Linked DNA regions of Homo sapiens. The protein of the gene in region 1 purifies or fractionates together with the protein of each later gene. This does not show direct contact. Each region holds a gene or a part of one and is shown in the gene's direction. Other genes may lie near its edges.

Region 1 (4,064 bases):
CCCGTCCAAGCAACCTTGCATCCCAGCTGGAGGGCCCCTTGCTGGGAGGACTTTGACCACCTGAGGTCCAGGGGCTGGGGCCTCAGGGTGCAGGGGAGGGGACCTCTGTCAGGCTCCCTGCCTGCTTGTGGGAACTCATTCCACTCTCCCAGTAGGCCAGCCCCGAGCTTGCGATTGCCCCCGTTTTTCAGGGAGCAGCTAGAGGGTGGGGCCGAGGCTCCCCGGAAGGAAGGGGCTGTTGGGCTGCAGCAGGTGGCTATGGCGCCTGCGGCCCACGGAATGTTCAGAGACCTCTGGGTGGAGGTCCTGGCACTCCGCAGGAGGCCCAGCCAAGCTGGGTCTGCCTCTCCCTAGAATTCTTTCCTCCCCTGCCCCTTAGCAGTGGGGGCTCCATCCCTCCTCCCCCATGGCTCCCGTACAGCGTTGTGGAGTGGATGTCGGGGAGGGAGGCAGGGGCCTGCCACCACACCCCTGTGGCATCTGGGGCCCAGGAGGGTCTCGTTTATGTGGGTGGTGCTGGTTTCTTCCAGGCTCTGGGGCAGCAGGGCTCCAGGGCCCTGCCCTGACTCCTGGGTTTGCAACCAGGTGGAGCATGTTCTGGAAGAACGCCGCGTCTGCTCGCTCTCATCCACTGCCTCCCTGGGGCTGCACACGGCCTGTGAGGTCGGTCAGCCTGGCGAGGACATTCCGTGCCCCGTTTTCGGGGTGGGGGGGACCTTACGGAGCCCTAGAGCTGGACGGGGCTCCGGCTGCCGTGCCGCCTCTCCCGCGGCGGCTAAAATGTGCTGTTCACGCCTCAGATGGGCCTCTCCGTTACGTACAACAGGTCTCCCCGGGGCCCTGTGCACATTGGTCCGGGTTGGTCTCTGGGGTGGGGCTGCCCTGGGCACTGCAGGGTGCTGAGCAGTGTCCGAGGCCTCCACCCACTCCATGCCAGGAGCTCCCCCAAGTCGTGATAACCACAGATGTCTCTAGACAGTGCCCATTGTCCCTTGGGGGGCACGTTGCCCCCATTTGAGACCCTTTACTGTGTGGTAGCGTACAACGTAAAATGCTCGTGGCAAAGCTGAGGGATAATGAGTGCAAATTATTTTGTCAGAAGTTTCCATGAGTGCTTATAGAGTATTTTTCTAAGCACCGTCAAAGCCGTGTGTGTGTGAATTCACTACTCAGTGTATGCATGAATGTGAATGCATGTATTGTTTTATACCCGTGGTATTCCAGGTTTGTCCCTATGCACACTTCTGTCGATGCTGGTGACAGCTGTGGATGGGTACAGGAGTGGCAAGCACGTACTGCGCACTTAGTGCACACGCTGCTCCCGCCTCCGTCCGCGCCGCCGCCATCCTGGGGTCCGCCCTGTGGCCTGGAGAGCTCTTGCAGGCCCTGCCAGCAGCTCTTGGATCTGGGTTCCCATTCCCCAGGCCCGCTGGGCTTCTGCCTATCACGGGCAGCCCTCGGCTGTTAGGTTTCCGTCTCACTGGTAAACTGTGGAGGGGACCCCCGTATAGTTCTTTGTGGCAGGTTTGTGGTTGGAAACGTGGGGACTTCCATGGGAATGCCTGTTCCCAGGGCCTGAGGCTGCTAGCGAGGCTGAGCCGGAGTGGCTCCAGGCTTTCTAAATAAAGCAGGATGGTTAGTTCCGGAGGCTTCCTGTCCGGCCTGCGCCAGCCCCCACGGGGCAGTGACAAGGCCCGGGATCCAGCATGGGGTGCGGTGGCCCCACGGGAAGGGCCGGGCCTCTGTTGGCCCAGTGTTGGGAGGCGTGGAGCGTGGCCTCTGGCGCCTGGCAGGGTGGCTGTGCCGTGTCCCAGAAGACTCTGGGAGCAGGAAGCGCCCTTGGATGGCCTCGTCCAACCTTGACTTCCCAAGCCCGAGCCCAGGCCAGGGAGACGTGGGGACTTGGTCCGGGCCTGCTCTCACGTCCTTTGTGTTTACATGTAATCAGTTATGATGATTGTGGCTGAAAGGGTCTGCTTTTCCCGGGCATGGTCCGGGAAGCTCCGTTCCACAGCTGTGAGCTCCGTGGAGCTTCCTCCCGAGCCTCCTGCCCGGCTCTGCCGGTGCTGTAGTGAGAGTGGAGGAAGTGCTTTCCTCCGAGATTTAACCACGAGAGGTTTCACTTTCTGAGTCTTGTGGTGGAGCCTGTCTCTGTCTGGGACCTGGACCCTGGGCAGCACGGGGAGGACGCCGTGGCATCAGGAGGTTGGAGAGGTGTGTGGTGGAGTCGGACGGATCTTAGAGGGGCGCTCGCGGGGCCTGCTCGGCCCTACCCTGTAGACAGCTGGGACCCAGCGCCCCTTCTGGGTCCCCAGCAGGGCTGTGTTCTCCCCACTGGGCACCCCAGCTTGTGCGTGGAGGATGGGAAGCCTTGTATGGCTTGCCCACCTGGGTGACTGAGAGCGGTGGATGCGATTAGGGGCGGCCAGGGGCTCTGGGAAGGCCCACGTGCAGGGTCATTATCTGGCAGAAATTAAGTCCTTTCGCAGAACCGGGATCCTAAGTGCCGGTTTGCTGGCGTGCAGGTGGTTGCAGGTGCATGTAGCTCCTGCCGCCAGGCCCTGTGTGGAGCATCCCGCCCGGGGGGCCTCCCACCATGTCTGTCATCTGTAGGGCACCTGGCAGGTCTTAGAATTGGCTGCCCTGGATCCAGACTCTCGCTGTCATCTGGGCCTGGCCACATCCCTCCCCTGCCATCAAGATGTCTGTGGTCCAGTCTCCCACCCTCCATCCCCACTCCCTGCCTCTGGGTCAGAAGCCTCCGATGGTCTCTGCTGTGGGGGTTCCTGGTCCAGCCTGGCCTCCCGCAGTCTGCCGACAGGCGCTTTCAGGACAGCACTGGTGGGTGGGTCTTCGGGCCACCTGCAGGGCCTGGGAGCAGTGTGGTGTCCGGATCAGGTACGTGGCCTGGGGAGACTCAGGTTCAGAGCCTACCTCTGCCTCTTGTAACTGTGGGACTTCAGGTCTGTGCCTCAGTTTCCTCAGGGGGCGGTGGGGTGAGGACTCGGTGGTGATCCCCATCCTGCCGCACGTGGGGACCCACGGAATGCTGGCTGCTGCTTCCGCTGCCGGTGTGGTGATATCTTGTCGCGTCCACAGCACCTGGCGTGTGTGGCACACATTGGGTGCTCTGAGAAACTGCTCCATGGGGGATCCTGCCCTGGGATCTGGGATCTGGGATCTGCCCACAGACACCTTGATCAGGATTCCCCAGCCTCGGCTCCGTGGGTGTTTTACACTGGATCGTTCTCTGGGGTGGAGCTGTCTTGGGCACTGCAGGGTACTGAGCAGCGTCCCTGGCCTCCACCCACACCAGACCAGGAGCACCCCCAAGTTGTGACAACCACAGAAGTCCCCAGACATCGCCTAGTGTCCCTGGGAGCAGGACCCCTGACCCGTGTGTCTTAGCAGCCCCCTTCCCTTCTCGTCGCCATCGTCAGCTGCGTGTCCTTGGTCCCCTGCTTCCCTGCCCATGTCATTGAGCTGTGCAGGTCTCAGAGATGCTTGGCGAGTGACCGTCATTGGCTGACTGAAGGCAGATCACGCAGGGAAGTGGAGAGGAGTGGCCCGACACCTCCCCAATGCCCTGCAGGCTGGTCTGGTGCACGCCAGGGGTCTCTGCTGGGGCAGGCTCGGTTGCCACCTGCCTGTGGGCCTGTGCACTGGGCAGAAGGGGTCTCCGGGGACAGTGCGCAGCTGGCTCTCAGAAGCTTCTTTCTGAGTCCTGCCTGTGGCCTGGGCTGCCCTGGGCTGGCCAGCACGGGGCAGTGGGGGCACACTCTGGAGGGAGCCAGGGGCGAGTCACTTCCCTCTCCCGGCCTCAGTTTCCCCATCGGTCACGTGGGAAGGCTGTCCCTCCCCCTGTAGGATTGTGGAAGGATTAAATGAGCTGAGGCCAGTGCGGCAGACAGCGGGGAGGGAGCCCTCTTGTCCCCTGTGGCTGCCCTTCCTGCTGGCTGCTTTGCACCGAAAAGCTGCGGAGTAACCCTGGGCGGTGGTGCTCCCTGGATGGCGTCCACATGGGGACCCCAAGGCCTGGGAGGCTCCAGGAGGGACGGTGCTGG
Region 2 (4,064 bases), on another chromosome or scaffold:
CTTTACCAGGAATATGACAGCAGGAGAGAAGCCAGAGTATAAGGACACTGATAAAATTAGATGGATAGAGGTAGTGGTATAAGTTTCCTACAGATTGCTCAGTGAAAAGAAAGAAAAGTTCTCATCAGCTGAAAGCAAGGTTGGAAAAATGTTGGACATTTGAGTCAAAAAGAGGAAGTACAAAATTGTTGTCTAGGACAAGCGTCAGCAAACTACAGCCTATGGGCCAAGTCCAGCCCACTGCTTGTTATAACGCCCACGAGTTAAGAATGTTTTCTACCTCTTTAAATGATTAGGGGGAAAAACTCTTTTTTTGTTTGTTTGTTTGTTTGTTTGTTTTTGAGACAGAGTCTCGCTGTGTTGGCCAGGCTGGAGTGCAGTGGCACAATCTCAGCTCACTGCAACATCCACCTCCCAGGCTCAAGCAGTTCTCCTGCCTCAGCCTCAAGCAGTTCTCCTGCCTCAGCCTCCTGAGTAGCTGAGATTACAGGCATGTGCCACCACACCTGGCTAATTTTTGTATTTTTAGTAGAGACGAGGTTTCACCATGTTGGCCAGGCTGGTCTCGAACTCCTGACCTCAGGTAATCGACCCACCTCGGCCTTCCAGAGTGCTGGGATTACAGGCATGAGCCACCACGCTGGGCCAAAAACTCTTTATTCTTAAAGAAATACAGAAATTATTTAATAACAAAAACTATTATTAAAGAAAAATAGTATTTCAAGTTTTATTAGAACACAGCCATATTCATTTATTTACATATTATCTATGGCCTGAAGGAAGTTAAAGGTGAATGCAAAGGAATGATTATTGACCATGGAATGGAAGCTGGGTAATGAGGAAAGTGAAAATATAAGGGAGGTTAGAGACAGTAAGAATTATGAGTCCTAATGGGTTGTGGGAGTTGGAAGTGAGCTGAAAAGATAGGAAATAATTTGATCATGCAAGTGAGTGACAATATAGAGATTGTACTATATTTTCTGGTCTTCGGCAAAGCACAGCATCTAATCATATTAAAAGTGGATCCTAAAGGTCAGAGGAGGCCCATTCTGCTGTTTGCCATTTTTACCACCTCACTCTGGTGGTCTCAAACTGCTGTGCAGTTCTCATCATTGTTAAAATTTGCTTCCTGGCCTTTTAACATTTGACAGCATACAAGACAATACATATTTGCCTTGTATAAATCAACTTGACTGTGAGGTTCCGATGTAGTGTAGAACTAGACATGTTAGAACTTGTTGTACATGACTTAGAGAAGAGAAACTTAGAAGTATAAGATGAATATATGATCCCCTGTATACTCATGCATGAATTGTGCACTTTAGGCATAGTATTTCCAACTATGGTAAAGCATTAATGTCAAATGAATAGAAATACATGGAAACTAGAGATTTCTTCTGAACTAACTTTAATGCTAAAAACTAATGGAATATTTAAAAACCTAGCTTTATTTGGCTCCACATCTATGTCAATAGATGATTTCATTGAAATGCAGTAAGTGCTAGGATAGACATGCAGAAGGTTCTAGGGATAGAGAGTGGGGTGATATCCCTGGCCCAAAGGGAGTAATATTTCCTGGAGATGACACCCAGACTGAACCTTCAAACAGCAGGAGTTAGCCTAATAAAGAAGGGGAGAAATGTTTCCGACAGAGGGAATAGCATAAGTAAATGCTGAGAGACATAAAATGACTTGGAGTATTGTAAAGAGTTTGGTATCACTTGTGTGTGTGTGTGTGTATGTGTGTATATGTAAGGTTTGGTGGTTTTTGTTTAGAGATTTGGCTTTACCCTGAGGGCATGAAAAGAGTCATTAAAGGGTTTGAACAGAGAAGAACCCATAAAGAGATGGATTTTAAGACCTAGCCTATTAATTATTAACTTTAATTATTTGCTTCCTAAACATTGTGTAGTTCAAGTCTAGTCAGTATGATAATTTAGAAGTCAGTTGCAATAGTCTGCACAAGAAGTGGTGAAAACTTGAACTACAGCAGTGGTATAGAGATGGAGGAAAGAGAATGACCCCAGGAATATGTAGGGAATAAAATAGTCAGGACTTGGTGCGTTGATTGTAGATTTGAAAATTGAAAGAGAGGGAGGAATCAAACTTGTTAAAATACCTCTTTATTGAGCAGCACAGGGAATTAGTATGTTTATCTTATTGGGTCTTGGAAAAGGAGGAGACTGTTGCTTCATGTTGAAAGCCAAGAGAATAAAAGGCAGGGGGAGAATAAGGGCTGGTGGGGGTTGCCTTTCTATAACCCTCCATGAGAGGTAGACATCTCTCTCTGTGTCTTACCTTCCTATCCTACTCACTGTACTAGTGGTCTTCAAAAACTTTTTTTTTTTTTTTTGGAGACAGTCTTGCTCTTTTCACCAAGGCTGGAGTGCAGTGGCTGGATCTCGGCTCACTGCAAGCTCTGCCTCCCGGGTTCACGCCATTCTCCTGCCTCAGCCTCCCGAGTAGCTGGGACTACAAGCGCCCACCACCACGCCCAGCTAATTTTGTTTTTGTATTTGTAGTAGAGACGGGGTTTCACCGTGTTAGCCAGGATGGTCTCGATCTCCTGACCTCATGATCCGCCCACCTCGGCCTCCCAAAGTGCTGGGATTATAGGCGTGAGCCACCACGCCTGGCCCAAACTTCTTTTTAAAGTAGTAGGAGGACCCCTTTATCCAAACAAAATCTTACTATGTAAAACCCCAGGATATGACAGCTAAAACAGGTGAAGGGACCTGAGGCACCTCCACAGAGCACCTAGGACTCTACAGAATAGTTTGAACAGCAGTGTTGTAGTGTGAACACAGCTGAACTTACTCCTACCTTCCCACCCCAAGCTTCAGATAAAAGTTGATGTCAGAGGCCCTGTAGCCAGGGGCTGAGAGAGTGGTGGTATCCTCAGATTATAGCAGTGCACTTGCTTCAGAAATGATTTGCTCTTGAGGCATGTGTGAATTTAAGAAAGGTAAAATGGATGAAGTAGTTATTGGCCTTCATCAATCTTAATTATCTTGCCCTACCAGAAACAGAAGGATGAATTGGGGGGAATACCAGCCAGGGAGTCTAGAGGTCTAGTCCTGGCTGTGACCTTGGCTGGCCACTTGACCTTGAGCCCATCCCTGAACCTCATCTGCCTTGGTTTCCTAGCCTATTAAATGAGAACTGGGTGATCTCTGAGGTCCCTTCTAGCTCTAAAATTCTATTAATTTGAAGTAGCCAGCTTTTTGGGAAAAGGTTTTTGATTGAAGATGCAGTCTCAGAGATTAGTGCCTGCTCATGAGAAATGTCCTGAAAGTCCCACAGAGGGAATAGAGATGGAGCACAGCCCATGTTATTTATAAACCCGTCTTCATCATTCTCTAGCTAGACATAGCACACTTTTGGCAGTAAGTTTTTAGTGGGAATTTTCCATGACCTTTTGGGGTTTAATTTTGGCTATATGAACATGGTGATAATGGACAAGTACCTCTGACCGACTAGAACTGCAGAATGTATAGCAAAAGTAAGAGTTGTCTGAGGTGACTCTTTTGCAAAGTTTGAGAGTGTAGCCCGTGTTCTAACCCCCATCTCTGTCATTTTTTAATTTTTATTTTTAGAGATAGAGTCTTCCTCTGTTACCCAGGCTGGAGTGTGCTGGCATGACCATAGCTCAGTGCAGCCTCAAACTCCTGGTCTCAAGCAATCCTCCTGTCTCAGCCTCCCGAGTAGCTAGGACTACAGGCTCATGCCACCACATCTGGCTAATTTCTCTGCCTCTGTCATGTAGGGTGGCCTGCTCACCATTTCTCTGCTATTGCTCACCATTTCTCTGCTACTGCCCTTCTCTTCCCTGGGCCTTTGCTGATGTATTAGTTATAAATGGCTGCATAACAAATTATACAAAATCTAGTGGCTTAAAACAACAAACATTTATTACCTCGCAGTTTCTGTAGTAGCAGCTTAGCTGAGTGGTTCTGGCTCAGGGTCTCACAAGGTTGCTGTCAAGATGTTATCTAGGGGTATAGTCATCCGAAGGTTGATTGGGCTTGAGCGTCTGCATCCAGCCCCACTCACATGGCTCTTGG
Region 3 (4,064 bases), on another chromosome or scaffold:
AAATGATGCCATCTTAGTAACCCTATTGGAATTGGGGAGTTGACTGAGACTGGTTGTGATAACTACTGGAAACTTAAAACCTATTTGAACCCAAGGAAGTGACTTGGCCTTTCCAAATGCTATTCCTGCAATGTAGACGCCATCCTGCAGGTGGCGATAGTGTGCATTGACTATCCATTCTAATCAATGAGCGTGGAGGACACACCCTAAGGTTTTTCGCCAGCTCATTTCATGTGTGCCATAAATTTTTATGAATTCCAACTCTGAAAAGACTTGTATTTAAAGTGTGTATATTATAGCAAAAACCATTCAAACATGACTTTTAATGGAACGGAACAGATTCCATTCCATCTGCATGTTGCTTCTTCCATGACAGCAAAGGATATTACTGTGAAAGCAGCTGTAGTCAGGGATCTGTTCAGCTCAGTGGTGGAATTATTGTCTTCTCTAAGTGCGGTAGCTAAAATAAATTACTTTTGCAATAAGGTGACAGCTAGAAGACACCTTGCATTCTCAAAAGCCACATTATAAAAACAGAGGCTTAGAAAGGGCCAGTGGAGGCAATGGTATTAAGACTGAAGAGTTTCAGACTCACCACGATGGGAGAGTCAGTATGATAAAATCATTAAGGGTTTAGGAGTCAAATGATGTGGCTTACAAATGATGTGGCTTTAGGGAAGTTACTTAACCACTATGTGCCTCAATTTCTCAATCTCAAAAACTGACATAATAACAGTATTCATCTTGATAAGTTGTTTAAACAAATATTAAATTAGATAATGTACATGAATCCCTTTGTAAACTGTAAAATGATCTAAAAATGAATTATAATTCTGCCATCTCTATTCACCTGTATATGGGCTATGGGCTCACTGAAATGATAATGGGTTTCCACAGACAGAAATCCAGGGCAGGCTCTGAGTCTGGTTCTGTGTCCACCAGCAAGATCTTTAAAAACTGATTTCTCACCTTGAGTCCTCAGTTTTCTTATCTGTAAAATGAACACAATGCTGACATATGGGAGGAGCTCAACAAATATTAGATGGCTAAAGGAAGAAGGAAGGGGATAAGCAGATGAATGGGAAAATGGATGGATAATAGATGGATGGATGGTTGAACTGTCAAATAGATGAGAAATTGGATGGATAGAAAATGGATAGATAAAAGTATGGTGAGATGATGAATGGATCAGTGAACTGACGGATGGAAAGATGGATGGATGGATAAACAGGTGGATGAATGGACGGACTATGAGATGAATGAAAAGTTGAATGGGTGGATGGATAGAAGAATGGAGGAATAAAAAGACAGATGGATGGGAGGTTGAATGGCAGAATGACTGGACGGATTAGGTTTCATGATCTCCAACATTCTATGATGCTGTGTCTAATTTTCAGACCCCTTTGTGAAAATCCAGCTGGTGCATGGACTCAAACTTGTGAAAACCAAGAAGACGTCCTTCTTAAGGGGCACAATTGATCCTTTCTACAATGAATCCTTCAGCTTCAAAGTTCCCCAAGAAGAACTGGAAAATGCCAGCCTAGTGTTTACAGGTAGGTAGCATTCCAAAACCCGATGAACTCCAGGTGAGGCACGTCAAACTTACTGTCCTAGAGCCAGAAGGCATCTAGAGAGAGTTACATTTAAGAACGTAATGTCTGGCATTCAACTACCTGGGTTTGAACCCACTTAACATCTATGAACTGGGGCAGGACTCATAGAGCCCTATAATATAATTGTTAGAAATGTGGACTTGAGCCAAATTTCCTCAGACTGCCACATAATAACTGAGGTCTTTGGCAAGTTACTTAACTCCTCTGAGCTTCAGTTTCCTCATCTACAAAATGTGAACAATAATAGTACGTGTGGCATAGGTTTGTTGTGAACAGTAAATGACTTACGACTTTGCAATATACTTGGTACATAATAAGTACTCACTATGTGTTAGTTTTGATGATGATGGTGGTGATGATTCAAGTTCCCTGCAGTCAAATAGAGAGGCATATGAAAAAACAGTGTCACCTAACTCAGAAAAAGGGATTTTTAAAGTCTTCCCAGAGGATGTAGTATTTAAGTAGAGGCTTCATGTGACACTGTCTGGTAGAATTTAGTCCATTTTTCCAGGGTGTAATCTAATGTAGTATTTCCAGGGTATATTAGTTATTTATTGCAGCATAATAAATCACCCCAAAATTTAGTAGCTTGAAACAACAAACATTTATATCTCATAGTCCCTGTGGGTCAGAAATTCAGGTATACAAAGCTTTGCTGTATAGTTCTGTGTGAATACCTCTGACAAGGCTGCAATCAAGGTATTGGCTGAGGCTGCAGCCTCATCTGAAGGCTCAACTGGGGGAGGATCTCTTTTCAAGCTCACTCACAGTTTTCAGCATGATTTAGTTCCCTGCAGGCTGTTGAACTGGGGACCTCAGTTCCTTCCTGGTTGTTGGCCAGTGACCTTCCTCAATTCCTTGCCACATGGGCTTTACCATAGAACAACTCACAACATGACTTTCATCAGAGTGGTCAAGTGAGGGAGCAAGAATGGCAAGGAAGAGTCTTTTTGTAATCTAATACTGGAAATGACATCCTATTACTTTCATTATATTCTATTCACTAGAAGCAATTCACTAGGTCCAGCCCACACTCAAGAGGAAGGGATTACACAAGGGTAGGAAGAGTGGGAGGTGGGAACCACTGGGACTCATCTTAGAAGCTACTCACCACAACAGGGATAGAGTTAGTAGGAGTAATGGTTATTCTTTCTTGTGTTCTAATTACAGTATGTACTTCCCTATATCATTGCTAACATTCACCATAACCCACCCTGTCAAGTTGATATCTTCATCCTCAACTTACAGATCTAGGGACTGAGGCTTAAAACCTAAACAACCTACACAAAGTCTCAAGCTGATAGAATCAGGACTCAAGCTCTGGTCTTGCCAGCTCCACATATCAAGGGATCTATATTTCCTCAAACACCCAGGTAGGGCTAGAACTGGGGATCGACATCATCCTTTGAGACATCCTTCTCCAGGGTAACTGGAAACTCTCCTCTGGTTAGATCTTGTCTAGAACCCTGGGCTCCAGGTCTCCCAAGAAATCAATCCATGGCTGAAAAACCCTTGCATACAAGATTTCCCCTATATAAACTTATTGCTCCTTCTCACCAAGATTGCAAATGTCTATCCTCTGAGACCCCTTCGAAGCAGGTTGGTTCTGGGTTTTCTCAAGGCCTGTCACCCATAGAGTCTGCGTTGAATCAGGGGATGCCTGCCATATGCAGATATAATGATCCCTTCTAATGCAGTCTGTGATGGCTGCTGTCCGGATGGAGTTACAAATAGACAAGGGCCTCACTCTCTCCTAGGTTTCAGGCCAAGACAGAAGACCGTCACCCCTGACTCCTTAAATGGTGGACAGGCAGGTAGTGGGGCCTATTGTATATTAAACCAAGACACAGATAAAAAATGAAGTCTCTTTTCCCAAGTCCCTGCTGAGAATAAGGGACCTCCTATTGTAAGCTTAGATGAGGAGAGGACCCCAGGGGAAACTGAGAGCCCCCATGGAAAGCCCTGACACTTCATATTTTACTTAACATTTTATGATAAATGTAGCACACACGTGTTATAATGAGTGACACCATGAAAAGATGTGTAAGGACAGAGAATCAGAGGAGAACAGGGGTTATGTGCCTGTGCTGGGGAGCTGATGTCTGGGTCCTGGCTTTACCACTCACCTACTTTGGTGACCCTGGGCAAGATCTGCGTGCTTAGGTTTTCTCAGCTGTAAAATGGGGATAACAATACAGGACACTTCACAGGATTGTTATTTGCATTCAGTGAGATCAATAAACACACGGTGCTGAGCACTGTGCCACCCATAGTAAGCACTCTAGAACTGTTAACTGTTATTAAAGGGAAAGTTTAGTGTTTTCCTTTTTTCTCCCACACACATGGGGCAGCCACCACCTTCTCACTCCCTCATGCAGTTTTGTTTATTTCAGAGTGTTTTCTTGCTGTGTAATCCTTCTCCCCGCTTTTTTTTTTTTGAGACAATCTCAT
Region 4 (4,064 bases), on another chromosome or scaffold:
GCCTCAGTCTCCCGAGTAGCTGGGATTATAGGCATGCACCACCACACCTGGCTAATTTTTTGTATTTTTAGTAGAGTCAGGGTTTCTCTACTAAAGAAACTGACTGTTGGTCAGGCTGGTCTCGAACTCCTGACCTCAGGTGATCTGCCCACCTCAGCCTCCCAAAATGCTGAGATTACAGGTGTGAGCCACTGCGCCCGGTTATTTCTTTATTTCCATTTGATGTGTGTCTTTATAGGTAGGGTGTGTTTCTTGTAGGCAACACATCGTTGGATCTGGTTTTTTTATTCATTCAGCCACTGTGTCTTTTGATTGGAGAGTTTAGTCCATTTACATTCAGTGTTGTTACTGATAAGTAAGGATTTACTCCTGCCATTTTGTTAGTTGTTTTTTGGTTGTTTTGTGGTCTTGTCTTCTTTCTTTCCTTCCTTCCTGTCTTCATTTTAGTGAAGGTGATTTTTCTCTGGTGGTATGTTTTAATTTCTTTTTATTTTTTATGTATCTGTTATAGGTTGGGCTTTCTTTATAGGACAGTGAAAACATTTGAAAATTGATAGTGAGGGTTGTTGTTCAAATCAGTGAATATACCAAAAATCATTGAATTGTATACTTTAAATGGGTGAATTGTATGGTATGTGAATTATTTCTTAATACTATTAAAAATATCAAGAACCTTTCTTTTTCTTTTCTTTTTGTTTTCTTTTGAGATGGAGTCTCGCTCTATCGTCGAAGCTGAAGTGCAGTGGTGTGATCTCGACTTGCTGCACCTCCGCCCTCCGGGTTCAACTGATTCTCCTGCTTCAGCCTCCCAACTAGCTGGGACTACAGGCACATGCCACCATGCCCAGCTACTTTTTGTATTTTTCATAGAGACGGGGTTTCACCATATTGGCCAGGCTGGTCTTGAACTCCTGACCTCGTGATCCACCTGCCTTGGCATCCCAAAGTGCTGGGATTACAGGCGTGAGCCACTGTGCCTGGCTTCTCAAGAACCTTTCATATGGCAAAAGATACCATAAACCATATTAAAGAAAACCCAGACTTGGATTAATTATACGTAACATATAAAACTGTTAAAGGCTTAGTACCCAAAACACAAAAGGAATTTCTAAACATCAATAAGAAATAGACTAACACCCTATTAGTAACTTACCAGAGGATTCAGGCAGTTCAGTTAAGATTGGGCCTAAATGGCTGATTAAAAAAGCGGAAAGATGCTTTGTTTCAGGGAGATACCATTTAAAATAATAGAGATATCATTTCACATCTGTCTTTTTGGACCATATTAATATGCCTTAGGAAATCAAGTGTTGGCACAAATCTCATGGAATGGAGCAGGCTCCTTCACTGCTGGGGAAGTGTAAACTGGTTGATCTCCTTGGAGAGTGGTCTGACAATATCAGGTTGAAGACAGGCCCTACTCTGTGACTTTGTTGTACTACAGCCACTCTTGTACCTGTTGCAATGCGCTTGGTGGGTGAAACAGTAACAGGAACCCAGCTAGGCCCCTCAGACTGGAATAACTCAACCACAGAACAATTACATATATACATCAGTGAAATTCAACGAACTAGATCAACAGAGATCAACAGAGATGTCAGAAAAACAATGTTGAGTGAAAGTGGCATGGAAAATGTGTTGCTGTTGATTTTTAGGGGCTGTTGATGCATCTTTTTGTCTCTAAAATTTAAACGCTGATACAGACTTTTTAAAAAATTGCTTTTTGCTAATGTTGTCGCAGTTTGCTCGTGTTTATAAGTGCTCATTGTGTGCCAGCTACTGTTCTAGGGGCCAGGGGCCAGGGCTGTAGCTGTGAACAAGACAGGCAAAATCTCCACTCTCACTGGGCTCATAAATGAGGGATGACAGATAGTAAACAAGTAGGAAAATAATTGTGCTCTTGGTTGATGCTAAACAATATAAAGGAAATAAAGCAGGGGCTGAGGGTGACCAAGGAAGGTGTGCAAAATCTCCGCTCTCGTTGGGCTCATAAATGAGGGATGACAAACAGTAAACAAGTAGGAAAATAATTGTGCTCTTGGTTGATGCTAAACAATATAAAGGAAATAAAGCAGGGGCTGAGGGTGACCAGGGAAGGTGTGCTCTGAGGAGCTGGCTATTAAACAGAGACTTGCATTTTTTTTTTTAATTGAGACAGTCTCATTCTGTCCCTCAGGCTGGAGTGCAGTGGCGTGATCCTGTCTTACTGCAACCTCCACCTCCCAGGTTCAAGTGATTCTCCTGCCTCAGCCTCCCTAGTAGCTGGGATTACAGGTGTGCACCACTATACCTGGCTAATTTTTGTATTTGTAGTAGAGGCGGGGTTTTGCCATGTTGGCCAGGCTGGTCTCGAACTCCTGACCTCAAGTGATCCACCCGCCTCGGCCTCCCAAAGTGCTGGGATTACAAGCATGAGCCACTGCGCCCAGCCATAGATGTGCGTTTTAAGAAGAGCAAACGTGGAAATGTTTGGGGAAAGCATCCAGGCAGATACAAAATTCTTCAGCTACATCATGGTCAAAAATGGCAGGAAGCATTAAATACTTATGAATAAACTTAATAAAAGAAGTGCAAACGTTAACACTGAAAACAGAAAACATTATTCAAATAAGGAAGCTAAATAGATGGAAAGGTCTGCAAGGCTCTTTGACTAGCAGACAACGTTGTTTGTTAAGAGAGCAGCACTCCCCAAAGCGATCCACAGATTCAGTGCAGTCCCTGTCAGTCCCAGCTGATTTCCTTGCAGACATTGACAAGATGATCCTGAAGAATAGCAAGTCCAGTGTGGCCAAAGCCCAGGAGGGAGGAGGGGAAGTGGATGGTGATGCAGTCAGGGAGACTGGCAGGGCTTCTGAGTCCTGAAAACCCTGTGGGCCATGACAGGGAGCTATTGCCGACCTCTCCTAGGTCTGGTAGAAGCCTTAGGAGCTTTTAAGCAGGGCTGGGATGGCTGTGAGCCATATGGCAATGAGCAGGACAGAATGTCGAATAAATAGAATTCAGCTTTTCAGTGGCAGGAAATGAGAGCATCCTCACTTTCTTTCTGTACATGTTGTGTATTTGTGTCACATTACTGACCCACCTAAACCTTTTCTTAAGTGATACGGAAGTAACAGTATTTATTATAGAATATTTAGAAGATTGAGTCTGGGTACGGTGACTCACACTTGCAATCCCAGAACTTTGGGAGGCTGAGGCAGGAGGATTGCTTGAGGCTAGGAGATCAAGACCAGCCTGGGCAACATAGCGAGACCCCATCTCTTAAAAGGTAATAAATTAGCCGGGCACGGTGGCTCACGCCTGTAATCCCAGCACTTTGGGGGGCCAAGGCAGGCAGATTACGAGGTCAGGAGTTCGAGACTAGCCTGGCCAATATGGTGAAACCCCATCTCTACTAAAAATACAAAAATTAGCTGGGTGTGGCGGCACATGCCTGTAGTCTCAGCTACTTGGGAGGCTGACGTGGGAGAATCACTTGAACCCAGGAGGCAGAGGTTGCAGTGAGCCAAGACTACACCATTGCTCCAGCCTGGGTCACAGAGTGAGACTCCGTCTCAAAAAAAAAAAAAAAGAAAAAAAAAAATTAGCCGGGCATAGTGGTACACACCTTTAGTCCTGGCTACTCGGGAGGCTGAGGTGGGAGGATAGCTTAAGCCTAGGAGTTCAAGGCTGCCGTGAGCTATGATCACGCCACTGCACTCTAGCCTGGGTGACAGAACGAGAGACCCTGTTTCTTAAAACACACACACACACACACACACACACACACACACACAATATTTAGAAGATTCAAACTGAAAGAGAATATGTATTCAGGATCCTGCCACTTTGAGGTAATGGCAGTTAACATTTAGTGTTTCTTCCTTCTAGTCTTTTGAATGAAGTTATGATCCGACATTTCTCAAATTCAGTAATGAGTGCCCATCCCACCCAGCTCACCCCCCAACACCTCAAAAGGAAACAAAAGAATCATAGCTTTCCTGTTGGCAAGTCAGTCCTTGAAGCTTCTGATTCATTTCTTTCAGGTGGAGCTGATCAGAATAATGTTCAGCATCAACCCCCTG
Region 5 (4,064 bases), on another chromosome or scaffold:
CTTACCTCAGTTGCTGGCTCCTCAGGGAAGGCTTTTCTAATCTAAAATAGCCTCCGTGTCCATTGCTTTCTTTCCCTTTCCCCTGCCTCATTTACCTCCTGACATTAACCTTTTCCTGGCACTATACTACTTCTCTGTCCATCTCTCCTATTATTCTGTAGGCTTCACACAAACACAGACATTCTGTCTTATTCATCCTTGTACCTTCCTCATAGGCAGTCAACAAATATATGTTGAATGAATGCATGTAAGGGGTAAGGTTTATAATGTTAACTCAGGCTGAAAATAGAGGCAGTTCCCAATGTAATGAACACATAAACAATCTCTGTCTATGTTAATGCCCTCATACGCTCTTTATAAAACCATTCTGGCTGGGCATAGTGGCTCACTGCCTGTAACCCCATCGCTTTGGGAAGCCGAGGCGGGCGGATCACAAGGTCAGGAGATTGAGACCATCCTGGCTAACACGGTGAAACCCCGTCTCTACTAAAAATACAAAAAATTAGCTGGGTGTGGTGGCGGGTGCCTGTAGTCCCAGCTACTCGGGAGGCTGAGGCAGGAGAATGGCGTGAACCCGGGAAGTGGAGCTTGCAGTAAGCTGAGATCGCACCTTCAGCCTGGGTGACAGAACAAGACTCCTTCTCAAAAATTAAAAAAAAAACCATTCCATTTTGAACTCACTTCTTGTATTGCCTTGGAAGACATCTAGCCATTGGTACTCATTTCTGTTCCGGGTCGAAGGGACCTCACCTTCTTTTCCACCAGCGATGAGACAGGAAGGCCTCAACTGGTATCCCTGAAAGGGGGAGAGTTGGACTCTTGCCACAAGTCAGGTATCTCACCTACTTCTCTCTCCCCTCTTGTGACCTTTTCTCAACTACTGCCCCCTAGTGTGGTTCCAATGGTAAATGACGGATTTGGAAGAGGAAATAGACATCCCTTCTCCTGTGGGTTTGGGATTGGAGTCAGAATGGCCACTGTGAGGACACCTGGTGATCCCTGGACCCTCACTAAGACAAGACTCAGAGGGACACCAAGCAGCAGGGGGAAGTCAAGAGAGAATAAAATGCTAAAGACTTTTTGCTTTAAGAGTTGAAGAGATATATATTTGATATATATTTATTATGTTTGGAAACCATAAAATGAAACCAATAGGATGAATGAATGGTTTTTATTCTTGTTAAACAAGTATTTATTTGGTACCCACTACATGCTTTGTATAGTTGGCTCAACCTTCAAACTCTACCCATTATGAAGCTACTGTTTACCATGTCCACTGCCTATTTCTAATCTAGCCACCTTCACCTCTCACCTGGAGCGTGGGAACACACTACATCTATAACAGAAAATTATTGTTTAGAAACAACCCCATTATTCCACTATTACAGATAACAGTAGTAAATGTCTTTGCTGTAGATGACCCTTGTTTCTTTTTTAATTTTAATTTTTTATTTTATATATATATGTGTCTGTGTGTGTGTGTGTGTGTGTGTGTGTGTGTGTGTGTGTGTGTATTTTTTTTTTTTTTTTGAGACAAGGTCTCACTTTGTTGCCCAGGCTGGAGTGAGATGGCATGATCTCAGTTCACTACAGCCTCGACTTCCTGGGCTCAAGCGATCCTCCCAACTCAACCTCTTTTTTTTGAGACAGAGTCTCACTCTGTCACCCAGGCTGGAGTGCAGTGGTGCCATCTCAGCTCACTGCAAGCTCCGCCTCCCAGGTTCACGCCATTCTCCTGCCTCAGTATCCCGAGTAGCTGGGACTACAGGTACCAGCCACCACACCCGGCTAATTTTTTGTACTTTTAGTTGAGACAGGGTTTCACCACATTAGCCAGGATGGTCTCGATCTCCTGACCTCGTGATCCGCCCGCCTCAGCCTCCCAAAGTGCTGGGATTACAGGCGTGAGCCACCGTGCCCGGGCCCGCTCCCATCTCAAGCTCTTGAGTAGCTGGGACGACAGCCGTGCACCACCACACCCTGTTAATTTTTTGATTTTTAGTAGAGATGAAGTCTCACTGTGTTACCCAGGCTGTTCTTGAACTCCTGAGCTCAAGTGATCTTCCCACCTCAAGCCTCCCGAAGTGCTGGGATTACAGGCATGAGCCATCACACCCAGCCTTGACTCTTGTTTCTTCTTAAAAATTTCATTAGAGTAAGTTTGAAACATGAGATTACTTGGTCAAATGATATGAAGCCTTTATGGCTCTTGCTCTGTGTTATCCTCTTGCTTTTTCAAAGGGCCGTGAGCTAACAGGGAGCAGTTCATGACGAACTTTTACTAAAAGTATCACCATTTTTGTTTTCTTATTTTGTAGGTATAAAACGATACATAAAATTCAAATTTATTTTATAATTTTTGATACTGTTGTATCAAAAAATCTGAGTCTGATTCCTAAGGGAGATGAAACAGCATGAGTCATGTGTGTAGGGGAAGAGAATAAGGGAGCTTTTCCAGGTTGATTTGCAGTTTCTTGTTCAAGAAGCTCACCAGATGGTCGAACAAGTGACAGGAAGAAGATAGTTGAAAAGGGCGTTAACGTTTGGGAAAGGTGGATCATTGAATTAATGAACTGAATTGAATTCATTTATAAAGAAAGCATGAGATCCAGGTAGAAATCAGCTATAAATCTAAAGCATAGATCAGAAGATTCTAGCAAACTGAAACCACAACGAACTGTCACTACACTTTTATTAAAATGGTTATAATAAGAAGTGGTGACAACTCACTAAAGAGTGAGTTCAGCCATGTTACGGGATATGAGAGCAACACACAAAACTTAATCACATTTTTATGTGCCAACAATGAACATGTGGAAACCAAAGTTAAAAACACAAAACTACTTAGCTGGGCGCAGTGGCTCACACCTGTAATCCCAGCACTTTGAGAATCCAAGGCGGGCGGATCACCTGAGGTCAGGAGTTCGAGACCAGTCTGGCTGACTTGCTGAAACCCTGTCTCTATAAAAATACACAAATTAGCCGGGCTTGGTGGCAGTCACCTGTAATCCCTGTTACTCAAGAGGCTGAGGTGGGAGAATCGCTTGAACCCAGGAGGCAGAGGTTGCAGTGAGCTGAGATCGCACCATTGCACTCCAGCTTGGGCAAGAGAGCAAAAATTCCGTCTAAAAAAAAACCAAAAAACTACAGTACTACTTACAGTCACCCTAGAGAAAATGTGATGCTTGGGTATAAATTTAACAAGACATGTATAGGCTCTGTGTGCTAAAAATAGTAAAATGATTATGAAGGAAGTCAAAGAGGACCTAAAGAAATGGACAGACATACCGTGTTCATGGATTGCAGGACAGTATAGTAAAGATGTCAGTTCACCCTAAACTGGTCTATAGGTTTATGTAGTTCTTATCAAAATGTTAGCAACATTTTTGTATAGACATGGAGCTTCTTTTAAAATTTACATGGAGGGGCCGGGCACGGTGGCTCACACTTGTAATCCCAGCACTTTGGGAGGCCAAGGCGGGTGGATCACCGGAGGTCAGGAGTTCGAGACCAGGCTGGCCAACATGGTGAAACCCTGTTCCTACTAAAAAATACAAAAATTAGCCAGGCATGGTGGCGGGCGCCTGTAATCGCAGGTATTTAGGAGGCTGAGGCAGAAGAATCGCTTGGGCCCAGCCTAGGCGACAAGACCAAGACTCCATCTCAATCAATAAATAAATAATAAAAATTCATATGGAAAGGCACAAGCCCTAGAATAGCTTAAACATCTTGAAAAAGAAGAATATAAGTGAACATGCTACCTGATATTAAGATGTATTTTAGAGCTATAGTACTTAATACACTGTAGTATTCATGAAAAAATAGAAACATAAATCAGTGGGGCCAGGCACGGTGGCTCTCGGCTGAAATCCCAGCAGAGGCCAAGGCGGCTGAATCACCTGAGGTCAGGAGTTCGAGACAAGCCTGGCCAACATGGTGAAACCCCATCTCTACTAAGAATACAAAAAAATTAGCCAGGTGTGGTGGCGCATGCCTGTACTTTCAGCTACTCGGGAGGCTGAGGCATGAGAATTGCTTGAACCAGGGGGCAGAGGTTGCTGTGA
Region 6 (4,064 bases), on another chromosome or scaffold:
AGCTTCTCTGTTAGGTATAGAGAGGGACTGGGTGAGAGAGGGAGACCAGTTAGGAGGCTCTTAGAATAATCGAGGTGAGAGCCGATGGTAACCTGAATCATGTGGAAGGAATGGAGATGGCAAGAGGTGGTTGGATTCTGGGTATTTATTTAAGGTAGAGCCAATACAACCTGCTGATTGGATGTAGAGGGTAAGCGTGTGAGATCATGGATGATTATAAGGTTTTTGGCCTAAGCAACTGGAAGATTTGGAGGTGCCAGCAACTGCAATATGGGAAACGTAGGGATGAAGCCTTTGGGAGGCGTAAAGGTGAAGAATGAAGTTTTGGGTAGTGAAGTTTGAGATGTCTATTACGCATCCAAGTGGAGATGTTGAATACAGTTGTCGAGTTTAGGGCAGAAGTCCAGGCTTGAATTAGAAATTTGGGAGTCACCAGTGTTGGTAACGGAGAGAAGAGGACTGTGAATGGAACCTGGGCCATTCCAAAGTTAAGTAGTTGGTAATAAATGCAGTGCTGGGGGCTGGTCGTAGTATTTTGTGATTGCTGCTTATTTCTTAATGAAATAGGAAGCTAGATCCTCTCCTGAGAGAGAGGATGGAAGAGGAGGTGTTGGGAATTTGAGGAGAGAAATTGGCTCATGTGCATTTCTTTAATTCCGCTGCCCTGGTGCAGGCATGGAGTTGGTAGACAGTTGGGTTTAACCAGGACTGGGAGTTTTGCAGGTGACCATGATGAAGGGAGAAAGAAAGAGTTGATTTTGTGAAGACCCAGCATAATTTAAGCTGGCCAAGGAGGAGGGAAGCAAGGACATGAAGGGAGAGAATTCCAGTGACGTGGGGGAGCAGTCCTTTGTAGGTTCTAGTAGGGCAGAAGAATATTTGGACTCGGAGTGCCAGAGGGACTGAACTGGGAAGACAGGAGGTGCTTGAAATTGAAAGTGTGGTGAGGTTGCAGTTACTGGTATTGACAAAATCCGAGATATGATTGGGGAACTAGAGGATGAAGTAGGATGGATGATAGAATCATTGCAGGACCGAAGTTCAAAGAAATGAGAGGTATTAGTATTATTTTTAATGAACAGTTAACTTCCTCCCATGTTGTTGTTGTTGTTGTTGTTATTATTATTATTTGGACGGTGTCTCGCTCTTATTGCCCAGGCTGGAGTGCAGTGGCGCAATCTCTGCTCACTGCAACCTCCACCTCCCAGATTCAAGTGATTCTCCTGCCTCAGCCTTCCGAGTAGCTGGAATTACAGGTGCCCACCACCACATCTGGCTAATTTTTTGTATTTTTAGTAGACACGGGGTTTTGCCATGTTGGCCAGGCTGGTCTTGAACTCTCCTGACCTCAGGTGATCCACTCGCCTCAGCCTCCTAAAGTGCTGGGATTACAGGCGTGAGCCACTGTGCCCGCCCCCGCCCCCATGTTATTATTTGGAAATTTAAGAGAAGTGGGGGTTGTTAGGCAGTGGGGGGAAGGAGGATTAGAGCAGTCTATACAAATCTTGATTACATTTTTCTGTACCTTATATCCTGATACCGGCAAGCTAATCGATATTACAGGTCCATATCATGAGCATTCTCATAGCTGGTATTTCTTCTTAATGCAGTAACTATTGGTACTTCAGAGATGAATGCATTCTTGGATGACCCAGAATTTGCCGATATTATGCTGAGAGCAGAGCAAGCAATAGAAGTTGGAATTTTTCCAGAAAGAATCTCTCAAGGTTCAAGTGGAAGTTACTTTGTGAAGGATCCTAAGAGGGTGAGAATTTCACAGACCTATTATATGTAATGGAAACTTTGGTAAATACTAATTTAAATATGAAATCATTGTGAGTTTCTAAAGATATTTTCCTATTAAGTCTGATTGTAACCTCTTTTCCAAAACAAAGGTCAGTTTTTGTTTGTTTTTTGAGACGCCCGGGGTCGCCCTCTCTTACCCAGGCTGGAGTGCAGTGGTGCAATCATAGCTCACTGTAACCTTGACCACCTGGGCTCAGGCAATCCTCCCATCTCAGCCTCCCAAGTAGGTGGGACCATAGTTGCGTGCCACCACACTGGGCTAATTTTTGTAATTATTTGTAGAGACGGTGGTCTCCCTATATTGCCCTGGCTGGTCTTGAACTCCTGGGCTCAAGCAAACCTCGGCTTTGGCTCCCAAAGTGTTGAGATTACAGGTGTGAGCCACTGTGCCCAGCCTCAATGTTTTGCTTTTACTAAAGCACTCTAGTGCTTAGAAACAGAGCTAATCAGTTCAAGTCACAGTTTGCTATTTTGTTATTTTATACTTGGTTTCAAGCATTTATTGAATACCCACATTCAGCTGTAGCCTTTTTGAGTATATATATTCACAAGTCCTTATCTTATGGAAGTCTATAACCTTAATAGCCAAACACGGTGGAAGGTTAAACCTTCAAAAGTTGTTTAATGTCATTTCCAAAGTACTTGATTTTTTTTCAAAGGTATGTGAATACCTTTTCTGGCATTTTACCAGGGGAAGGAGGCTTAGCAATCTGAAGCTTGAAAGTATTGGAATGTGAAAGTGAAATGAACCACAGGATGATTCTAAAGTGGAAAAGAGAAGTTGATGTGGCACTTTGCTCCACTTAGTCTAGAATTTTTCAAAAATATGTTATTTTTTCTAAAAGCTTTCTGAATGATGCATAATGAGCAGTTCTTTTCTCCAGGGGAATAACGTTTATAATTTCACCCAATTTTTTTGGCAAAGATAGAAGTTCTATTTTTAAAATGATTTTAAAGCATAGTCCCTTTTTTAAGATTAAAATGTATTTGAAGGTACTGTCAATCTCTCAATCTTTATTCTAAGCTTGATTTCTTAATTTGATCTTGTTGACTTTTTTACTAGTGACTCAGACCTTATTGCATTATATTTATTGTGTTATAAAGCAATTATATACTTAAAATTATAATAAGATTTGTTCTTGTCTAAGGATAATTCAGCTTCTAAATTGAATATGAGTATATTGTATCAAACAATAAGAGTACAGAGACTTTTAGACATTCATGAGCAAAAAAAGATTTTTTAATACGAGAGAATTTAATCAATTTATTTGTTAAGATGGATTCTCACTCTGTCGCCCAGGCTGGAGTGCAGTAGCACAGTCTCGGCTCACTGCAACCTCCACCTCCCGGGTTCAAGCGATTATCCTGCCACAGCCTCCTGAGTAGCCGGGATTACAGGCGCTCGCCACCACGCCGAGCTAATTGTTGTATTTTGAGTAGAGACGGGATTTCCCCATGTTGACCAGGCTGGTCTCCTGACCTCAAGTGATCTGCTCACCTCCCAAAGTGCTGGGATTACAGGTGTGAGCCACAGCGCCTGGCCAAGAGTTTACTTTAAATTGGTTCCTGAAAAAATAGCTGGAAAAGAATTAGGGTACGAGAATCTGACAGCATGGATGTACACTGTATCTTATCATTATATTTGTATTTTAGAGGTAGTTTTTGTCATTGGATTAGTTAATTTAACAAATACTTGGATGTCCACTGTTCATCAGATACTGTTCTGACTACTGGAAATGCAGCCCTAACAAACCAAGTCCTTGCCTTATTAGAATGTACATTAATGTGGGGAAAGTAAACAGCAAACATGTAATGTGGATATTTAATAGATAGTGAATAATAACACTGTTTGACCTAGAATGGTGGTTTTGAAACATTTAAAAATCAGTGAAAGTCTTTCCTTTTTTTTTTTTTTGAGACAGAGTCTCGCTCTGTCACCCAGGCTGGAGTGCAGTGGTGCGATCTCCGCTCACTGCAAGCTCTGCCTCCTGGGTTCATGCCATTCTCCAGCCTCAGCCTCCTGAGTAGCTGAGACTACAGGTGCCCTCCACCACGCCCGGCTAATTTTTTGTATTTTTAGTAGAGATGGGGTTTCACCATGTTAGCCAGGATGGTCTCGATCTCCTGACCTCATGATCCGCCCGCCTCGGCCTCCCAAAGTGCTGGATTACAGGTGTGAGCCACCGTGCCCGGCCCAGTGAAACTGTTTCTTAACTTGGAAGTCCAGCAATATAAAACAGGTGAAATTAGAGTTAATC
Region 7 (4,064 bases), on another chromosome or scaffold:
CCCCCCCTCCTCAGGTACTTGCAAATACCCTTTTCACATTCTTCTTTTTGTAGCTCTTTTCCCACCTGCCATGCAGCTGCTTTGTTTTCAAAATCTTTAAAAACATTTTTACTGATTATGAAACCTATATATGCTCATAAAATTTTACAAATATGTATAACTCAGGCAACTTTCCCCCTAACTTATTGGTGTATCTAAGTAATCTTTCCATGTCTTTGTTTCATGTCAGTACATATGAAAGAGTCACTTTATTTATTTGTTTGTTTGTTTATTTTTAAAAGGCAGGATCTCACTATGTTGCCCAGGCTGGACTCAAACTCCTGGGGTCAAGGTGTTATCCAGTTACTCCACCGTGTAGTTATTAATACCATTTTCCCCCAGGTAAACTAGTAAGCAATTTTTAGGCAGATAGAATGTTTTAAAGTCTAATCTTATATGAATACTTTTTTCTTTTGATACCTTCCCATTTTATTCAATTGAATTTATTCATGGTTATAGAAATACAATTTTGTTTTTTAGAACCCTCTGTTTAGAATCTCTAATGATGTTCATTTGTTACCTTGAAAATTTAATAATCTGCTTGTTTATCCATCTGCACTGATGTCTGCCTGCCACTGTTCATTCTATTTTTCTGATATTTTGGGAGTTTGTGCCCACTGATTTATATTTCACTCTGTAGAAGAATTCATTGTTCTTTACAGATCGAAGATTTCATTTGTTACTGTCAGAGAGGGTTTAAAAAAGAGGGCTGGGGTAGCACCAGGCTGTGGTGGCCACCGTTAGCACTTGCCTGGAGAAACAAGTCCTAACCTAGGTCTTTTGAGGGAGGATGGGTAGGTTAGGAGAATGAAAGAGAGAGAACAGTGATACACAGTTTGGGTTTGTGTATATGAAACACAGCTTCCCCAGGAGCCAAGGAAATAAAGAGAAGTAACTTTGAGTATAAATTGATACATGTTTTGTTAGATAGTTTGACAATATGTATCAAAATTGGAAATGTATACTGTGTATCCTTTGACCTAGCTGTTTCATGTCTAGAATGTATCCTAAGGAATTAATCAGATGAATGTGCAAAGATTTGTGTACAAGGATGTTTACTACCATGTTGTTTCTTAGAGCAGAAAGTTGGAAACTACCTAAAAGTCCATCAATAAAGGATGAAGTGAATCATAACATGACTATAAAATGGAATTTTTGCAGTGAGTCTTTGCCAGAGATTATAAAATGGAATATCGTGCATGAATGGAAAGGCAGTGTAGGTTTTAAAAACTCTGGGTTCAAATCCTGGCTCTTATTAGCTGCATGACTCTGTGCAAGTTGCTTAACCTCTAAAGGACCTCATTTGTAAAATAGGGGTGATAAAACCTACCTCTTAAGATTGTGAGAATGATTTTTTATTTACAAAGCACTTAAAACAATGTCTGTAACATAGTGAAGTGCTATATAGATGTTGGCTGTTATTATTATTTATATTTCCTATTAAGATTGTTACCTAACAGTATGTATGGTGTGACCTCTGTTACATAGAGCAAAGTTTCTCAGTACTAGTGTTGCTGACATTTGGGGCTGGATAATTCTTTGTCCTGGGAGCTGTCCTAACCACTGTAGGATTGTTCAGCAGCATTTCTGATCTTTACCCACTAAATGCCAGTAGCAGTCCCCTAGTAGTAACAATCAAAAATGTCTACAGACATGGCCAAATGTCCCCTGGGTGGGAGGGACGGGCAAAATTACCCCCAGTTGAAAGCTACTAATATGAATAAATGATTGCAAGGAAATTCTCGGCTAAAATGTTACATTGTTACCTCTGGACAGGGAGATTCCAGACGACTTCTTACTTTTATCTTTATGCTTTTTCATGAGAACTTTGCATGAGGAGCATGAAACATTTTCCACTAAAAACAAAACAACAAAAATCCAGTGCTATAGTGTCTCTGCTTGGGCAGGAAGAAGTATGGGGAAAACAAGATAGTTCTGGCCTTAGACTGGAGAATCAGGTAAAGGTGATCCATCCAGAAAAGGCCAGAGGATGAGCCACGTTGGCTGAGGGTGGAGGTCTGAGGGCCTGGAAAATACTGAGCAGCGTTCTCAGCTGAGTGAAAATGAGCAGCATGACATTATATGTATCTGAAAAGGACCTGTGCCTAGAAAGTTTATATCCTAAGTTTCTCCGTTACTGTAATCCAGCCCATCAATCCCTCATTAACTTCAGTTCAGCCTTCCCTTCCTTTTTCAGAGAAGATGCTGTGCAGACTTCTGTGCAGGGAGGGTTCCTACGAAGCAAGTTAAGAATGATGCATCTGTGAGCTAGCAGTTTCAGTAAGGAAGGCTGGTCATGGTAATGTGTACTGAGATCTGACTTTCAAGGACTTCATCTTTATAGAGCACTTAGTCTGGCTTTAAGAATACAAAGGTGCTTTTCAAATATCAAACTAAATCTGATGACACTTCCCACCTATGGAAAACATAAAATCAGAGAGTGATTTCCCTTTCATTCCATTTCTGATGCTTTTTTATTTTTTTGCAGTTCTGTACACATAATTAATTTCATCAGTAGCACCCTACTTAAAGTACAGAGGAAATCCACATTTGCCAAATTATAAACAGACCTAATCATGACCTTCAGGGTTTGGGGGCTTTTCTTTCAATGTTGTTAACTTGTTAATGGGGAGTAGATTTGTAGATACAACTGGGTAGCACCTCCAGAGCAATGAAATGGTAGCAAAAGGAAACAAAGTGTCCTTTAGGGCTTTTTCTTTTGAGTGACTTTGATTAGACTTACTTAGAAATATGAAGCTCTGGCCAGGCACAGTGGCTCACGCCTGTAATCCCAGCACTTTGGGAGGCCGAGGCAGGCGGATCACGAAGTCAGGAGATAGAGACCATCCTGGCTAACACGGTGAAACCCTGTCTCTACTAAAAAATACACAAAATTAGCCGGGCGTGGTGGCGGGCGCCTGTGGTCCCAGCTACTCAGGAGGCTGAGGCAGGAGAATGGCATGAACCCAGGAAGGGGAGCTTGCAGTCAGCCAAGATCGCGCCACTGCACTCCAGCCTGGACGACAGTGCGAGACTCCGTCTCAAAAAAAAAAAAGAAATATGAAGCTCTGAACTAATCTTCAGAAATGGTTAAAGCACATTCTTATATAGTTGAAAAAGATATATTGAAACTAATTAAATTCTATATTCTTAGGTCAGCAGCACAGTGGCCATGGAAAAAGAAAAACTCTACAGCATATTTCCGAGGATCAAGGTGAGTTATTTTCTGACATTTTACAAAGATATTCTTCCAAGTAATGTAAAATGTAAGTAACTTTGAGGGTATGACAAGCTCTGTAGTTCAAAGGGAAAGCTAAGATAACAAAGAAAGAAATGTGGAATCACAATTTTAGATTCGAGAATAATTCACATTATTTGCCGAAATCGCCATTGATTGAGTTGATATTCAAAGAAGTAAAGTTCATCCATTTCAGTCATTTAACAGATATTTTACATAGTGTCACAAATGTGTCGGTCATTGATTATGTGATGCCAAACACAACAGATGGGTGTCTTCTTACAGTCCCTAGGAGTAGCTTATGATCATGCCACGGTACTCTGCTGGTTAATGCAGAGCAGGACTCATCACCATATCTCTTGACTGCCTTTTTTATCACACCCTGTGGCTGCCAAATAGTGGTTAAGAGCACAGACTGAGACTGCTGAAAATGAAGAAGGGAGCAGGGAGGAAAGAGAAGAGAAAAATGGCAAAGGTAGTAGGAGGACCCTGTGTTGTTCAGCTCCATAGTCCCAAGGCCAAGAACAGTTCCTAGCATGTCAATATATGATAAATATCTGTGGAGCAGATGAATAGAAAAGACCATGAAGGGAGCAGGGTTTTGTAGTTTTAGCAAGTGAGTCCTTGCCAGAGATTATACTCCCTCTTCACCCTCCTCTTCACTTCGGAGCTAGACTTTAGGAGGTAAATGGATTATCCAGCTACTATGTCCTGTTTCTTACCAACTTCTCTGATTCTTAAATCTTGAAGTCACAAATTAACTTGGGGACCATGTCTGGACTTCAAG

The links.
Region 2: the proteins of GNA11 (region 1) and ATPAF1 fractionate together in Homo sapiens (co-fractionation; one large-scale study listed by BioGRID). This does not show direct contact.
Region 3: the proteins of GNA11 (region 1) and SYT17 fractionate together in Homo sapiens (co-fractionation; one large-scale study listed by BioGRID). This does not show direct contact.
Region 4: the proteins of GNA11 (region 1) and TMEM248 fractionate together in Homo sapiens (co-fractionation; one large-scale study listed by BioGRID). This does not show direct contact.
Region 5: the proteins of GNA11 (region 1) and TTL fractionate together in Homo sapiens (co-fractionation; one large-scale study listed by BioGRID). This does not show direct contact.
Region 6: the proteins of GNA11 (region 1) and PI4K2B fractionate together in Homo sapiens (co-fractionation; one large-scale study listed by BioGRID). This does not show direct contact.
Region 7: the proteins of GNA11 (region 1) and POGLUT1 fractionate together in Homo sapiens (co-fractionation; one large-scale study listed by BioGRID). This does not show direct contact.

What each region holds. Positions count from the first base shown.
Region 1 is NC_000019.10:3,096,961-3,101,024, forward strand, and holds part of GNA11 (guanine nucleotide-binding protein subunit alpha-11), read left to right. Parts: intron 1-4,064. UniProt on the Homo sapiens protein: Guanine nucleotide-binding proteins (G proteins) function as transducers downstream of G protein-coupled receptors (GPCRs) in numerous signaling cascades.
Region 2 is NC_000001.11:46,636,911-46,640,974, reverse strand, and holds part of ATPAF1 (ATP synthase mitochondrial F1 complex assembly factor 1), read left to right. Parts: intron 1-4,064. UniProt on the Homo sapiens protein: Has a complex stabilizing activity in the assembly of the mitochondrial F1-F0 complex.
Region 3 is NC_000016.10:19,223,286-19,227,349, forward strand, and holds part of SYT17 (synaptotagmin-17), read left to right. Parts: intron 1-1,397; coding exon 1,398-1,553; intron 1,554-4,064. UniProt on the Homo sapiens protein: Plays a role in dendrite formation by melanocytes.
Region 4 is NC_000007.14:66,937,823-66,941,886, forward strand, and holds part of TMEM248 (transmembrane protein 248), read left to right. Parts: intron 1-4,025; coding exon of another isoform or gene 4,026-4,043; coding exon 4,044-4,064.
Region 5 is NC_000002.12:112,495,196-112,499,259, forward strand, and holds part of TTL (tubulin--tyrosine ligase), read left to right. Parts: intron 1-4,064. UniProt on the Homo sapiens protein: Catalyzes the post-translational addition of a tyrosine to the C-terminal end of detyrosinated alpha-tubulin.
Region 6 is NC_000004.12:25,250,711-25,254,774, forward strand, and holds part of PI4K2B (phosphatidylinositol 4-kinase type 2-beta), read left to right. Parts: intron 1-1,610; coding exon 1,611-1,765; intron 1,766-4,064. UniProt on the Homo sapiens protein: Together with PI4K2A and the type III PI4Ks (PIK4CA and PIK4CB) it contributes to the overall PI4-kinase activity of the cell. This contribution may be especially significant in plasma membrane, endosomal and Golgi compartments.
Region 7 is NC_000003.12:119,482,135-119,486,198, forward strand, and holds part of POGLUT1 (protein O-glucosyltransferase 1 precursor), read left to right. Parts: intron 1-3,193; coding exon 3,194-3,253; intron 3,254-4,064. UniProt on the Homo sapiens protein: Dual specificity glycosyltransferase that catalyzes the transfer of glucose and xylose from UDP-glucose and UDP-xylose, respectively, to a serine residue found in the consensus sequence of C-X-S-X-P-C.